Regions from separate parts of the Homo sapiens genome. Here region 1 is linked to region 2. Evidence: fine-mapped expression QTL. Tissue or cell type: whole blood. Region 2 holds a variant in brackets; the other region holds the start of a gene. All regions are shown on one strand. Distances are between the middles of the regions.

Region 1 (2,675 bases), 49 kb after region 2:
GCGCTGGCGGCCGCGGTGCCGGCCGCGGGACGTCCCGAAATCCCCGAGTGCAGCTGGTCAGCGAGAGGCTCCTGGCCGCGCTGCCCCTGGTTCGCGCCCTGCTCGGCGCTCTCTTGAGGCGCCGCGTCCGGGGCCGGGGCCGGGGCGGGGGCCGGGGCCGGGGCCGGGGCCGGGGCTGGGGCCGGGGCCGCGACTGGAGCCGGGGCCGGAGCCGGAGCCGGAGCCGGGGCCGGGGCCGGGGCCAGGACCGCGACCGCGACCGGAGCCGCGACCGGAGCCGCGACCGGAGCCGGAGCCGGGGCCGGGGCTGGAGCCAGGACCGGGACTGGGGGCGGGGTGGACGCCGGGGCCGGGACCGGGACACTAGGCAGCTGCTCCGGCGCCTCCTCGAGGCCGTCGAGGGACTCAGCGGCCGGCTCGAGGGGCGGGCTGACAGCCACCGCGACCGCGACGGGCCGCGGCGCCAGCAGCAGGCGGCAGCGCCCCACCTGCACCGTCTCGCGGTAGAACGCGGGCACCGAGTCGCTGTCCACTTCGGTCCACTGCAGGCGTCCAGGGCCCCGCAGCGGCATGTCCTGCTGGAAGTCGTAATCCCAGCGGTTCTGGTCCTCGGCGTTCAGCTCGGCCAGGCGGGCCTGCAGCTCGCGGCTCAGCTCCTCGTGGTCCACCGGCCCGAAGAGGCTGCGGCAGGCGCTGGTGCGCACTAGTACTGGGAAGGTCCCACGGGCGACAAGACGCTCCATCGTGGATGTGCTGCGGAGGGACGCGTCGGACATGGCCCGGGGCTGCGCAAACGCGGGCAGCGAGAGAGGAGAGGACAGCGAGAAGAAGGGGAAAGGAGAGGAGGAGAGGGCGGAGGCCGGGCGCAAGGGAGACCCCGCGCCGCCCGACTCTGCGTGTGCGAGGGACGCGGCGGCTACCTGGCTGTCCGGTGGTGGACTCTTCTGCGTCGGGTTCGCCTGTCTCGTCCGGACGGCAGCCGCGCCCCCTCGATGCCTGCTGGCTAGCTCGCTCGCTCAGGCCTGGCCGGCACCCCTCGAGCACAGCGCACTTGGCCTGTGGAACGCCCAGCCCGCCTGCGCCCCCTTTATACGCGCGGGCCCCACCCCCGTGCGCGCGGGCCCGGCCGCGATTAGCATAATGTAGTATTTTCAGTTTCAACAACACCACGGCGATTGGCGGCCGCCCCGCTGCCCCGCCCCGCCGCGGCCCGGCCCCCGCGCACCGCCCATTGGCCGCGCGCACACCCACCGGGGGCGGGGCGGGGCGCGCGGCCGGGGCGCGCGGCTGATTGGCGGCCGCGGGGCGAGCGCGCTGTAGCAGGGGAAGGGGGCGGTGAGCGGGGCGGGGGCGGGAGTTAAAGGGCGCTGCGGGCGGTAACGTGACACCGCGACGCCCGCCCCCTCGCCCCATCCCCCCTGCAACACTCCCCCACCCCCCCGGCTCCCGCCCCCCGCCGGCTCCTTTGTCTGCAGGCGGGGGCCTCAGCCCAGCGCGGCAGGGGCCGGCTCCTGGCGGGTCCGGTGTCCGGCCAGGCCCAACTCGACCCCGGCCCGGTCCGGACCCCGGCGCCCAGCTCCGTCCCGCGCTCGCCCGTGGGCCTCCTGCGCCAGCTGACGAGGCTTGGACCCGCCGCTGCCAGCTCGGCCCTGGCCTGCGCCGGATGGGGTCTTCGGCTGCCCCCGCGCGGCCTGCTGCTGCTGGGCTGGTGTCCCTTCGAGGGCTCCGCGCGCCTGGAGCCCTCACACACCTGCTGGCCCTAAGGCCCTCGAGTCGGGAGGGGGGACAGGGGTCAGCTCCACTCTTTCCCCGAGGGACCATGTGTGGGACACCTTGAGAGACTCCCACCAGCCCCCTGGAGCTGGAGTCTGAAGCCGCTATCTGCGGAGGCCCACCCTGCCCAGTAGATGGAACAGGGGCTGAGCCCATCATGTCACTGTCGGGGGTCCCAGCCCTTCTCAGCCTTGGGCCAGACCACTCCAGCCCCGGGATCTGCCTGTCCAGGCTGGCTGGAAGCTGTTGTACTGGGTAAAAGTGAAAGATCTGCCCGAGGTCATAGGGGAAGGGGCTGTGAAGGACCATGCCCCTCCCCCGCCTGCAGCCCTTCCTGGTACAGACCTCGGTCGTGCGCGCACGCACACACACACACACACACACACGCACGCACACACACGGTGCTTCACCCCAGCCAGGCCAGACCAAAAGAGACCATTATTTCCTGCTGCCTCCCTTTTGGCCCACCTACCATGAGGCAGGGAGCCCCCTCCTCAAACCAGGAGCCTCCCAGATCGGGATGGGGACTGTCAGACACCTGTTGGAGGGTCCAGCAGCCCATGAGATCTAAGCCCCTATCTCAGGTGAGCCTGTGAGCCAGCAGAGAGACCTCTGGGAGGGAGGGAAGGTGCGGTCCCCTGAACCCCAACCAGCCTGCCTTTGAGTCCCAAGACACCCCCACCCCCATGGAATGCTGTGGCAGTGTGCAGCTGCAGCTGGGGGAGCAGGGCGGGTCTTCTGGGTCTCAGGGAAGCGAGATCTGAAGTGAGGGGGGTGAACTGGATGGGACAGGGCGTTAACCCAGGAGAGGGGCCAGGGCCATTCTTGGCTCTTGATGGTGGAACCAAAAGCCATGATTTATGTGCAATTTCATATTCTTCTCTGTGCACAATTTACAAATT
Region 2 (2,675 bases):
GGACAGGTGGGAATCGAAGTCATAGGAGGCGGGGCAAAGGCCACGGGGAAAGGGACAGAGCTGCTCCCAAGGACGCACCACCATGGGGTGCCCCGTGGCGTGGCGGGGGTGGGGGTCAGGACCTTTAGCAGAAGGTAAAGATGAGACCAAGAGGCAGATGGGTGGAAGAGTTGAAAGCAGCCAAGTGTCACCAAGGCATTTCTGAGGGAGAGGGACACGACTAGTGGCTCAAATCTTTAGAAATGAGGGGATGGGTCTGGTAGAGCACCCCAGATTCAAGGCGGGTGGCTTGGGGAAAGCAGGGAGAAGGGTCTGGAAACTGCTGCTGAGCAGGAGCCCCCACACCCACAGAGCAGGTGCAGGGAGGCCCATCTGTCCATCCGTCTGTCTGTGGGGAGGCATGGTGACGTTTCAGGCCGGAGGTAGAAGTTTTCACCCAGGAGGTAGAGGGTGAGGCCGGACTGCACTCCAAGGGGAGGAGGTGGGAGAGCACAGCCTGGCTGCTGCCACCAAGCTCCCCAGAAGAGGGGACCCCTCCCCCCGAACACCAGCACATGTAGGCAGAAAGACTTGGCCTGTGGAGCCCTCAGCCTCCACGCCCACCAGCAGGGACTGGGTGGTGATGTCAGCAATCCCCACAGAAAGGAGGGCTGCACAGCCGTCCCAGGAGCCAGCACTGTCCCCGTGATTCTACGTGCAGCCTCCACAAGTGTGTCGCATGGAAACAAGCAGTGGAGAGCCACATGTGTGTCACATCACGCCTCGCCTCACTCGTGCTAAACCTCGCTGACCAGGCAGAACCAGGCACGAGCTGCGTATCAAAGTTGCTGGAAGGAGAAACATCAGATCCCTAAGCTGGTTACCTGGCAGGCAGGGGCCCTAGAGGGAAATGGGGCAGGTGAAATGGAGATGTGTCTTTGAAATGTCTTTATTTGGCGGGAGAACGTCTTCATAGGGTACTTATACCATGAAAAACCCTGTACACAGACTAATTTTGAAGCAAACATGTGAGGCGTTCACAGAAAGGGTTCAGGAAGACAAGCACCCCAGCCGCAGAGAGCCCGTGGGCTGGGGGCACGGGGCATGGCAGCCCTCTCCTGGGGATGGGCAGGATGGGGCACGTAGGGCGGAGGAAGAGGCTCACATGGTGTGCGTGTTTGGGAGCACCCTGGGCAGCCTCTCGAGTGTCCAGAGAGAGGACACCGTCTTGAGCCAGCAGGGACAGCCAAGAGCGCCCGGGGAGAGGCCTGG[G/A]TGGAGACAGAACACAGCAGGCTGTGGGCGTGGCCAATGTTGAGGGACGGAGGTGGCCAGAGGCCTCTCAGTGGTGCCCAGGGAGCTGGGGACGAGGGGCCTCATCCTTCCCCTGAGCCCCTCCCTTCAGGCCCAGGGAGTGGCCTGGGGCCCAGGAGAGCCCGCTCCGCGCTCACAGCCTCCGTTCCCAGACACGCCCGGGCCTGAGCCCCCAGGCTGCACTGTGCCACAGAACAGACTCCCCGGCCCCTCCCTGCTCGAGAGGTGACCAAGGCCCAGGGTCTCCCAGCGAGCAAGAGGCCATTGAACTGTTGTTGGCTGTGCAGTGCCCTGCCCTCGGGGAGGCGGCCTCTAAGAAGCACACACCACCAGCAGGAACCGGGCAGACAGAGGTGGGGGATGGAAAGCAGGGGAAGTGGCCACAGCCAAACCAGGAGGGGGAAGGGAGGGGGCCTCACCAAGGAGACCCTCACCTGGGGCCTGGAGAATGAGAAGGGTCTGGAGGCTAAGGAGAGGGGTGGATGCTCCAGGAGGCAGGGCCAGCCCATGTGAGGGTCCTGAGGTAGGAACCAGAGGAAACCGGCTCTGGGGCGAGAAGGGCGGCGCCCAGGGGGCCACAGGGGCCGGCGGCGAGGGACCCTCAGCCGAGGCTGGTATCTCGAGAACAGCAGGGATGCCTCAAAGGTTCTCGCCCAGCAAGTGGACATTGTGGTGTGGGAGATCAGCAGGTGCCGGTGCTTTCTCTGTCTGCAGGAAGGAGAGGGGGTCATGGGCCCCAGAGGCCTCTGTCTTAGAGAAAAATGGTGGCAACGTGGGACAGACTGAGGAAGCCAGCCCAGAAACGTCCCGTCCCAAATTCAGGAATATTTAGGGTATACCTGCTGCACGCCAAGGGCAGTTTCAGGAAGGGGACCTACTTCTGAGAAGCAAACACCACCAGTAGGGACCAGGCAGACAGAGGTGGGGATGGAAGGAAGCCAGACTGACCTCACGTGGCTCACAGCCACTGGCAGGGTCGGGGGACAGGTGCCAAACTATCCACATGCCCGTCAGGCACCTGGAGGAGTGTGAAACGGCATGCAGAAAGAAGGAAGCAGGCTTGGGGCTGGGGGCCAGGGACCGGCGCGCCGGGAAGCAGGCTGCAGAGTGAGGCCAGGGATGGGGGCTGGGCCAGACCACAGGGTTGTGAGCGGACTCTGGCATTGATCCGGAGCCACTGAGGGTTAGAGCCTATGACTGACAGGGGTCTGACTTCCAGTGGTATGGGGCCACCCTGCTGGGCTGGGGAAGGGAGGCGAGAGGAAGTATCTAAGGTCTGCTTGTGGACTTCCGGGGACAGCGAGGGGTATTGCTGGGGTCCTAGGGGCTGGTGCGCTCAGAGGTTCCAGATGGCCCAGCAAGTGGCTGAGGGCCCAGGGTAGGGG

What was found. PIP is the estimated chance that this variant, and not a neighbour inherited with it, causes the effect.
Region 1: it holds the start of CDKN1C, and the variant in region 2 is fine-mapped to the expression of CDKN1C in whole blood (TOPMed, PIP above 0.99).

What each region holds. Positions count from the first base shown.
Region 1 is chr11:2,884,714-2,887,388 of GRCh38, forward strand. It overlaps CDKN1C (cyclin dependent kinase inhibitor 1C), which reads right to left and starts at 1,062. Exons shown (of 4, transcript NM_001122630.2): 1 at 921-1,062; 2 at 1-753. The coding sequence starts at 743. SLC67A1-AS (SLC67A1 antisense RNA) reads right to left here. Exons shown (of 3, transcript NR_169305.1): 3 at 2,631-2,675. RefSeq lists enhancers at 52-887, 888-1,723, 1,724-2,559.
Region 2 is chr11:2,835,973-2,838,647 of GRCh38, forward strand. All of the region lies in intron 15 of KCNQ1 (potassium voltage-gated channel subfamily Q member 1), which reads left to right. Among named protein-coding and RNA genes, the nearest start is that of KCNQ1-AS1, 24 kb to the right of the region's middle. RefSeq lists an enhancer at 1-731. The variant G/A (reference allele first, on the strand shown) is at 1,252.